2 separate regions of the Homo sapiens genome follow, and region 1 is linked to region 2. Evidence: fine-mapped expression QTL. A gene starts in region 2. The other region holds a variant in brackets. All regions are shown on one strand. Distances are from middle to middle.

Region 1 (5,520 bases), 43 kb after region 2:
CCGCTCAGGGCCCTCAGGGAACCGGGCTTCCATCAGAGTGTCCTGCTGGGCCACAGCTGCCTGGGAGTAGAATGCAGGCAGAAGGGTTTATCAGAACCCCTGTGCTCTTCTACCCCTCGCCTTCACCCTCCAAGGCCCAGATCATCGCTCCTGGAGAGCTTGGATTGGGAGGGTATTTAGAAAGGCCTGTTGGGATGACCATGCCCCACCTAAACAGGCATCTCTAGCCTGGCTCCTCCCCTTCCCCATTCAAGCCCTTGTCCTACTGACCTGTAGGCCATGTAGAAGTCCATAGAGATTGACCAATCGCTGTAACGCCTCCTGAGGACAGACAGGGTGGGAACAGGGCCCCAGCTTTAGGATGGGAGAACTGCCCAAAAGTTGAACAAGGGTGGGTGTGGGGACAGTAGGATCCGGAGACATACTTGAATGTAGACGCTTTCCCCACCCCACTCCAAACTGGGCTCTAACTACTCAGACTAAGAACATCCTCCCTTCAGTCTCCTATACCATCAATTCCCATCTCACCTCTTGCGGTGATCTCAGCTGATTTCCATTTCGATCCTGCAGAAATGGGCAAGAATGGGGAGTCAGCAGGCACACAAATCCTGGGTGCCTGCCCCTGACAGCTTTGTGTTGAGGATCCAGAGGCTGGCTGTCCCTCTCCCACCCTCTTGCCAAGTCCCAGAACCTCTTGAGGACCTACCCTCTGGCTAGAGTCTGAGTCAGCTCTGCAGAGTTCAATGGAGCCATTGAAGGTTCTGGCCTCACCATCTGTTGAGAAGGAGAAAAGGATGGCTGAGCTCACTTCCCTGGGGCCCTGATACCACTTGATCCCTGGTACCACTCTACTAACTTTGGCCCCTCCCACCTACTACCTTGGTCCCCTGCCCTGGTACTCACTGGCAGTGACCCCAGGACTCGTGTTACCACCGCTGTCTGGTTCCAAGGGCAGGGCTGGCTCTCGGGGTGTCAAGAGCAGTTCCACTCCTGGCCCCACCAGCAGGTCTTTCAGACCCTCCACTGTGGGGAAAGAGGAAGAGGTGAGAACAGGAATGACACAGGACCCTGAGGGGAATGCCATTCACCCCCACATGTGGGACACTTGGGCATCTGGGGGAATGCCCCCTGCACTGGCAGTGGGGTTTCACTCACACAACCACTGATGAGGTAAAGGGCAGTAAATGCCTACGAGGCAGCAGAGTCCATGCAGCATGGACGATATGGAGCAGCAGCAAGGACCACACCTCCTCCCCTGCCTTTCCCAGGAACTGGCCCAGAAGAGGCACTCAGGGCCGTTTATGGTTTATAGGGTTGGCATCCCACTTGTCTGTGTTTGTCCATGTCTAGTCACATGTCCACATTCTGTGACGGTGAGTGCTTGAGCCTGGACTCTTCCCTGGGAGCTCCCTCACCCTCACGGATGGCATCCTGCAGCAGCCGCTCGCCACGAGGGGACTCAAGGGACTCAGAGCGGAAAAGGCCCCTGGGCAGGGTGGGCAGGGCCATCCCACTGCCACCATCCTCTTCGGCCTGGAAATGGGTCATCTCAGCAAACAGCCCGACCTTCTCTCGCAGCAGCTCCACCAGTGCCCGGTCCTTCTGCTGCAACTCCACTGCAGATAAGGAACAAGTGAGGACATGAGAGGACGTAGGGGTATGCAAGAGCGCCAGTAGAGGACAGCCCTAGGGGAGAGGGGTAGGGTGGGGCAGTGTGGCAGACTTAATTTTGTTATTTTGGCATTTATAAAAAAGAAAAAGCTTTCTGTTGGTCAGGTGTAGTGGCTCACACCTGTAATCCCAGCACTTTGGGAGGCCAAGGCAGGTGGATCGCTTGAGGCCAGGAGTTCAAGACCAGCCTGGCTAACATGGCAAAACCCTGTCTCTACTTAAAATACAAAAATTAGCCAGGTGTGGTGGCACGCGCCTGTAGTCCCAGCTACTCAGGAGGCTGAGGCACAAGAATCGCTTGAACCCAGGAGGCAGAGGTTGCAGTGAGGCCGAGATCACACCACTGCACTCCAGCCTGGGCGACACAGCAAGACTCTGTCTCAAAAAAAAAAAAAAAAGATTTGTGGAAGGGGTTGCAGGTTGTCCAACAGTGTTCATTCTTTCCATCTTCCTTTAATGAGAAAATGCATAGAAGTTTCATCTGGGCACACATGGCTGCCCAGTTAACAACTATGTTTTCCAGCCTGACTTGCACGTGACTATATTGCTACATGACTACATTCTGGCCAATGGATATGAGCATCTTCCAGATCTGCTCTTAAAAGAAATGGGTATAGGCTGGGCATGGCAGGTGGATCACTTGAGGCCAGGAGTTCGAGACCAGCCTGGCCAACATGGTGAAACCCTATCTCTACTAAAAATACAAAAATTAGCCAGGAGTGGTGGTGGATGCCTGTAATCCCAGCTCCTTGGGAGGCTGAGGCAGGAGAATCACTTGAACGTGGGAGATGGAGGTTGCAGTGAGTCGAGATCACGCCACGCCACTGCACTCCACCCTGGGCGACAGAGCAAGACCCTGTCTCAAAAAAAAAAAAAAAAAAAAGAAAGAAAGAAAAAGAAAAAAGGGTATAAACTCTATTCCTTTACTCCTCCTTGCTAGGTGTGATACAGGTGTGACAGTGGGAGCTGGAGTAGCCACTTCAGACATGACATAGAGATGAAAACTTCATGTTAAAGATGGCAGAGCTGCACCACTACTCTGCACTTCCCACTTTGAACTGTTATGTTGACAGCAATAATATTCTACCTTGTTGGGGTTTTTTTTGTTGTTGTTGTTACCCAGACTGGAGTGCAGTGGTGCAATTATAGTGTATTACAGCCTTGAACTCCTGGGCTCAAACAATCCGCCCACCTCAGCCTCCCGAGTAGCCAGGACTACAGGTGTGTACCATCATGCCTAGCTATTTTTTTTTTTTTAATTTTTTGTAGAGACAGGGTCTTGCTATGTATGTTTTGTTGCCCAGACTGGTCTCGAACTCCTGACCTCAAGAGATCCTCCTGTCTCCCAAATCCTTCTGGGATTAAAGGCGTGAGCCACTGCATCCAGCCAATCTACTT[C/CTT]TTTTTTTTTTTTTTTTTTTGAGATGGAGTCTCCCTCTGTTGCCCAGGCTGGAGTGCAGTGGCGTGATCTCAGCTCACTGCAAGCTCCGCCTCCCAGGTTCATGCCATTCTCCTACCTCACTCTCCTGAGTAGCTGGGACTACAGGCACCCGCCACCACCCCCGACTAATTTTTTTTTTGTATTTTTTAGTAGAGACGGGGTTTCACCGTGTTAGCCAGGATGGTCTCAATCTCCTGACCTCGTGATCCGCCCACCTCGGCCTCCCAAAGTGCTGGGATTACAGGCGTGAGCCACCGCGCCCGGCCAATCTACTTCCTTTTTTAAGGAAGAAGATTTTTGTGGTCTTTTAGTATAGCAGTTAAATCATACCCTAACTAATATAAGGCCTTACAGTGAAAAAGTAAGTTACTCACCCAACCTTGGTCTTCCATATTATTTTTACACACATGGTAGTATACACTTTACATTGTTTTAAACCTTGCTTTTTTCACTTAATATGTTTCAGTTGTGGATCTACACCAGCCCTCATAGAGCCATCTCATCTTTTTAACAGTTGCATAATATTCCATTGTGTGAATGTATTATAAATTACTAAGGAGCTCCTTGTGGGTGGACTTACTCTTAATTCGCCGCAGGTAAGCCTCATCCTCTGTCTCAATCAGGGGGAAGTCCTCCCTGGATGGGCATCTGGAGGGGTAACAGGTCGCATGCCATTGAGAGACAGAAGCTAGGTTATAGACCAGAATCAGCCTTCCCTCCTTCCCAAACATGCCTTATGCTTCCATCTTCTGATAAGACTCCTCAGCCTCACACCCTAGCTTTAATTTAGTCCTGACCTTCTCCCTTTTCTTTCTTTTTTTTTTGAGACGGAGTCTTACTCTGTCACCCAGGCTGGAGTGCAAGGGCGCTATCTCAGCTCACTACAACCTCCTCCTGGGTTCAAGTGATTCACTTGTCTCAGCCTCCTGAGTAGCTAGGATTACAGGCACGCACCACCATGCCTGGCTAATTTTTGTATTTTTAGTAGACATGGGGTTTCGTCACGTTGGCCAGGCTGGTCTCAAACTCCTGACCTCAGGTGATCCTCCGCCTCCCAAAGTGCTGGGATTACAGGCATGAGCCACCGCGCCCGGCCGACCTTCTCCCATTTCTTAGCACTGATTATCTGCGTTTACTGAGATATATCTCTCCAAAGGTCGCTTGGAAAGGCAGCACAGTGCAGAGGGTCAAGTACAGGCTTTGGCATCAAGCAAACAGGATGCAAATCCTGGCTCCACTGTTTACCAGGTGGTAACCTCTCTATTTCCTCATTTGAAAAATGAAGGTAATATCTTCCTCATAGGTTTTTCATTAGGATTAAATGAAATGTTAAAGTGCTTTGAACATAACAGAAGCTCAACAAATCAATTACAATTAATATTATTAATTTCCACAATTATAATTTTTTTTTTGAGAGAGAGTCTTGCACTTTCGCCCAGGCTGGAGTCCAGTGACAGGATCTTGGCTCACTGCAACCTCTGCCTCCCAGGTTCAGGTGATTCTCCTGCCTCAGTCTCCCAAGCAGCTGGGACTACAGGCACGCACCACCATGCCTGGCTAAGTTTTATATTTTTAGTAGAGACAGGGTTTCGCCATGTTGGCCAGGCTGGTCTCGAACTCCAGTGGTCCGCCTGTCTCAGCCTCCCAAAGTGCTGGGATTCCAGGTGTGAGCCACAGCGCCTGGCCACAATTATAAATATTAATACTATTAATAAAGAAGCCACTACAGATCTGTCAACAGGACAGGTTATTTTGAACTGCTTTCTTGGAATAGGCAATTTCATAATTTTTTTTTGGAGATGGAGTCTCACTCTGTCACCTAGGCTGGAGTGCAGTGGCACAATCCTGACTCACTGCAACCTCCACCCCCGGGTTCAAGCGATTCTCCTGCCTCAGCTTCCCGCGTAACTGGGATTACAAGCTTATGCCACCACGCCCGGCTAATTTTTGTATTTTTAGTAGAGACGAGGTTTCACCATATTGGCCGGGCTGGTCTTGAACTCCTGACCTCAAGTGATCTACCCGCCTCAGCCTCTCAAAGTGCCGGGATTACAGGCGTGAGCCACTGTGCCTGGCCTGCAATTTCATACTTTTATATGCATTTCTAAAAACCTTTTCAAAATTCCATGGTGCAGAAGTTAAAAAAAAAAAAAGGTTTACAAATTATAAAGTTGAGAACTGATTCCCTGAAAGCTAAAGAAAAATTATAAAAATCTTGGCTGGGCATGGTGGCTAATGCCTGTAATCTCAGCTCTTTTGGAGGCTGAGGTGGGCGGATAAATCTGAGATCAGGAGTTCGAGACCAGCTTGGTCAACATGGCAAAACCCCGTCTCCACTAAAAATACAAAAATTTGGCTGGGTGCAGTGGCTCATGCCTGTAATCCCAGGACTTTGGGAGGCTGAGGCGGGT
Region 2 (5,000 bases):
GGAGTGTGATGGCACTATCTCGGCTCACTGCAACCTCCGCCTCCCAGGTTCAAGCAATTCTCCTGCCTCAGCCCCCGCAGTAGCTGGGATTACAGGCACCCAGCACCACGCCCGGCTAGTTTTGGTATTTTTAGTAGAGATGGGGTTTCACCATGTTGGCCAGGCTGGTCTCGAACTCCTGACCTCAGGTGCTCCACCCGCCTCGACCTCTCAAAGTGCTGGGATTACAGGCATGAGCCACCGCGCCTGGCCTGAATCTCTGAACAGTGTTCTAAATTTGATATAGTACATGAAAAAGTCAAGACTTTTTCTATTTTTCCCATCCCTGGAATCATGTGCTCTATGAAATGACCATATCAAAGCTGGGCCACCACAAAACATTATTGGCTTTGCGGGAAACAGAGCAGCAGAGGCCTGACCCAATGGAAATCCTTCCTAGAGAACTAGGATCATGGCAAAGAGTGTCACATACTGAAAATAATAAGGCCCGGCGCAGTGGTCACGCCTGTAATCCCAGCACTTTGGGAGTCCGAGGTGGGCAGATCACGAGGTCAGGAGATTGAGACCATCCTGGCTAACACGGTGAAATCCCATCTCTACTAAAAATACAAAAAAAAATTAGCCGGGCTTGGTGGCGGGCGCCTGTAGTCCCAGATACTCGGGAGGCTGAGGCAGGAGAATGGCATGAACCTGGGAGGTGGAGCTTGTAGTGAGCCGAGATTGTGCCACCGCACTCCAGCCCGGGCAACAGGGTGAGACACCGTCTCCAAAAAAAAAAACAAAAAAAGAAAATAACAGTACAGCTGACTTTCTGTGCCCTCTCCCATTCCCACATCCATTTTTCTTTCATATTAGGATATAAACCCTTAGAATCAAACCTGCTTCCTTATGGTTTAGGAATGACAGTAATGTTCTTAGTCTTTGTAGAGATTAGCAATTAAAAAATAAAAAAGTCAAAGCAAACAAAATGACTTTTTTACTCTATTAGCGTTCTGCAACAAGAGTTAAGGACCATAAAAGACATCGGAGGGCTAGGCACAGTGGCTCACGCCTGTAATCCCAGTACTTTTCGAGGCTGAGGTGGATGGATTACTTGAGGTCAGGAGTTTGAGACCAGCCTGGCCAACATAGTGAAATCCCATCTCTACTAAAAATACAAAAATTAGCCGGGTGTGGTGGCAGATGCCTGTAATCCCAGCTACTCAGGAGGCTGAGGCAGGAGAATTGCTTGAACCCGGGAGGCGGAGGTTACAGTGACCGGAGATCGCACCATTGCCCTCCAGCCTGGGAGACAGTGCGAGACTCCATCTCAAAAAAAAAAAAAAAACAACAGACAGACATGGGAGAAGACATTACTACGTAATGAACTTAAGGTATAAGGAAGTAAACCAAGAGCTCCAAGTGCAAGATGTCCAGGCTTGGCATGTCTGGGTTGTAAGAGTTCAGCAGCCTGGCTCTACTTGTTTCTCTGCTTCCTTTTGTGGAAGTTCAAACCAGCTGACTCACAGTTACAGAGCGAGTCTCAAGTCATACCCTTAGAGAAGTGACAGCAAGAAAAGGCTTCGTTAAGTGGCCTGTATACAACCATAAAAAAATACAACAAAGAGAGTTGTCCCATTAATGTTCAGTAAGAGACAAAGACTAAAGATGGCTTATGACATAAAGTCTGAAAAAAAAAGAAATATTCAGTTGCTTACCAACTGCTGATACCCTTGTTTCTAAATAAATCTGAATTAGACTCCAAAAAAGCCTCAAAATATAAATAGTTAGAAACTACTGATATTCATTAAGATATTTTTATGGGGTATATTTGGAAACATAAGTGATGATCTGGCTTACCAATGGTGGGATCATGATCTTCTGGGAATCGGTGGCTGATGAACTGCATGGTCATGGCTTCAAAAGAAGAAATAAAAGTCAAATCCTCACAAAGGTGACCCACAGAGAGAATTTTAAGTATTAACATTGCAAGATAGCAAGTATCCCATCTGGTCATTTAAGTACTTTTCATCCATGCTTCCTGTCAAATGGAAAATGTTACCTACCACTCTTCCCTACACCACCAGCACCCAGCATCACTAGTTTGTACTCCCGTGAGAGCCCAGCGGGGCTGCTACAGCAGCTACCAACTGGGCGAGTTCCAGAATCCATTGTCCTCTTGGGGCCTTCCTCGGTTGCCCCGAGGAAAAGCCACCTAGAAAAGGAGGAGGAAATGCTTAATCCAGGATGGAGACACCACGGCGACAGCCCTCAAGCCAGTGCCTTACCTTTCCATACATATTCTGGCCTGTCCCTCTTACTCTGGCCTGTCCCTCTTGCTCACCACTGCACCCTTTCGGGTGGCCCTAAGAAACCCCCCCATCTTCACCCTCCCTCCTAGACAGTTCAGTCACATGACACATCACAGGTTTTACTTTTTCCAAAGAGAAAAATAAAAAGATACAAATAAATTTACGTCTCGGCACAGTAGGGACAAGGAGAAAGTTTTGGGAAGAAAGGGATGCGGCCCCTTAGGCCGCAGGGGTTCTCTCACGTCTGCGGTACCCAGAGGTTCCGCCCCCTCCCCATTCTCCTCCGAACCCCCTCCCCACCCCCAGCTGCTGCTCCGCCGCCAGACTCCCCACCCCTCTACCTCACAAGCCGACGCCCTGCTGCTCCTACTGGTCAGTGGGGACTGGAACACCACAGCCGGTCGGGTCACGCACTTCGTCTTCCTTCACTCGCGGAGGCTCCGGCACTGACCTGTGACCCCTCCCGCAACCGAGTAAGATGGCGCCACCGGCGCCCGAGTCGCGGAAGGAGGGGCGGGGCCACTCAGTGACGCCCACAGCCTGCCCCGCCCTCTTCCCGCCCCTCCCAGGTCCCTAAAACCCAGTTCCGGGACCCACCGCTGAAGGTCCTCTGGTCACCTACCCAACCTAGGGTGTATGCACTCACAGACAAGGGTATTTAATCACGAGTAGAAAGTAAATTATTTACACAAAAGGGAAGGGAGTACGTGATAAGAGACATGCAGGGACACTTAAATTAACAACTTACCGAGGGTTGTTTGCTGCTTGTGGGAAAAAAAAAAACCCAAAACTAATTTGACCCAATGTAATGAGAGGAAGGGAGGACAGGGGCACCCCCCAAATCCTCCTAAAACACAGGATTTCAGTCAAGTCTACCGGGGATGACTACTCATAGGAGAAAAATGACTTTCCTAAAGGAGCGGCCACAATGACTTTTGCTATTGAAACCTAAATTCATTCTCAGAAACCAGATGTTCACAACACTCCCTAATCAGAGTTCTGTATGTATTTTAAACACGTATAAGACACACAAAAACTTGTTTTAAATAAATGTACCACACTCTGGCAGGAAAGAGAGCTCTGAGTTAACAGAGGCCTTGAGTTAAATACAGAACTGAAGCGCAGCCACTATAACCATATTCCCCTCTATTTACGTAGCACAGGTGCTAGAAGAAACTGACACGAAAATTGTTCTCATGCAGCTCTGCCTACCACTGTTCTTTTTAAATGTCTTTCTGGGCCGGGCGGGCGCGGTGGCTCACACCTGTAATCCCAGCACTCTGGGAGGCCGAGGCAGGTGAGTCATGAGGTCAAGAAATAAGAGACCATCCTGGCCAACATGTAAAACCGTCTCTACTAAAAATACAAAAGAATTAGCTGGGTGTGGTGGCATGCGCCTATAAGTCCCAGCTACTCGGGAGGCTGAGGCAGGAGAATCACTTGAACCTGGGAGGTGGAGGTTGCAGTTAGCTGGCTGAGAGGGTGCCACTGCACTCCAGCCTGGCAACAGAGCAAAACTCCGTCTCAAAATTTAAGTCTTTCTGGCCAGGAGTGCTGGCTCACGCCTGTAATCCCAGGACTTTGGGAGGCTGAAGTGGGCTGATCACTTGAGGATCAGGAGTTCAAGACCAGCCTGGCCAAAATGGTGACTCCCTGTCTCTACTAAAAATATAAAAATTAGTTGGGCATGGTGGTAGGTGCCTATAATCCCAGCTACTCAGGAGGCTGAGGCTGGAGAACCACTTGAACCCAGGAGGTTGCGGTGAGCCAGGATTGCACCATTCCACTCCAGCCTGGGTGACAGAGCGAGACTCCATCTCAAAAAAAAATAAAATGTCTTTCCAAGAATAACATATTTCCTTTAAAACCCGCTTCATTCATGAAGTCCTTTTAATACGCTGTTAAATAAAGGAGGGCTAAAATATGAAAATGGAAAATATCCAGCATAATAATCCTTAACCTTTTCATTTGAACTTTAAGGGTACATTTTGCAGTTACATAACTCTGGGAACTATATGCAAACCTTGGGGTCTGTATATGTATTTTTCTGGTAATGTTATAGTTGCATTGTGCTATGAGTAAAAAAGTTTATGAATTTCAGTGTATGGATGGGTTGTGGAAGAAAACAGAGAAACCACAAGCAGAATATTTATAGATTTATTTATAATGAAATTATGGTCTAAATATTTACAACATATAGGAAACCAGAGGATAAGTTTATACAAAGCCAGCCTGCAAAGTATTCAAATGTGCAAAAATGACAGTTCAATATCTCAAACTATTCCTGGTTCAGCAGACTAGCTCCTTCACTTTCACACATCAATATTTGATACAAAAAGTTATTTTGGCAAAATCTGTAATGCCAAGAAAAAGGACAATTTGCAATTTCAGTCATTAAGTCCAAAATCCTATAGCCAGCAGTCAGATCTCTCTGTTTTAGCTGCAACCAGTTCTGGGAGAGAGAGACCACTGTATTTCATTTCTGTGATGAGTTCTGACCAGTTTTAGTCAAGAAGTTTTCTCTGACCCAGCTGAAGACAGGATCTTAGAAGGGCAATAAAAACAGTAATGGCTATGAGACCAATGTGCCTGAAGGTGCCAGCTTTGGATCACCCCAATTAAAAAACACAATGAAAAAATAATTTCATTTTCCTATCCAGGATCCAGCTATATCCAACAGTTTTAAATGAGACAGCATTTTCCAAAACA

Alleles and levels. Alleles are on the strand shown, and positions count from the first base shown. SD is a standard deviation of normalised expression in the study named.
For the expression in iPS cells of the gene that starts at base 2,739 in region 2, CTT is the high allele of the variant in region 1 and C is the other (large effect, 1.0 SD a copy in iPSCORE).

Evidence for each region. PIP is the estimated chance that this variant, and not a neighbour inherited with it, causes the effect.
Region 1: its variant is the best candidate, but not a certain one, in a credible set for the expression of RIT1 in iPS cells (iPSCORE, PIP 0.54).

The regions. Positions count from the first base shown.
Region 1 is chr1:155,951,213-155,956,732 of GRCh38, forward strand. It overlaps ARHGEF2 (Rho/Rac guanine nucleotide exchange factor 2), which reads right to left. Exons shown (of 22, transcript NM_001162383.2): 14 at 3,690-3,757; 15 at 1,416-1,616; 16 at 904-1,023; 17 at 707-774; 18 at 529-564; 19 at 271-321; 20 at 1-60. It overlaps MIR6738 (microRNA 6738), which reads right to left and starts at 124; the gene lies at 61-124. The variant C/CTT (reference allele first, on the strand shown) is at 3,070.
Region 2 is chr1:155,908,611-155,913,610 of GRCh38, forward strand. RIT1 (Ras like without CAAX 1) reads right to left here and starts at 2,739. Exons shown (of 6, transcript NM_006912.6): 1 at 2,633-2,739; 2 at 2,046-2,194; 3 at 1,840-1,896. The coding sequence starts at 2,151. KHDC4 (KH domain containing 4, pre-mRNA splicing factor) reads right to left here. Exons shown (of 14, transcript NM_014949.4): 14 at 4,435-5,000.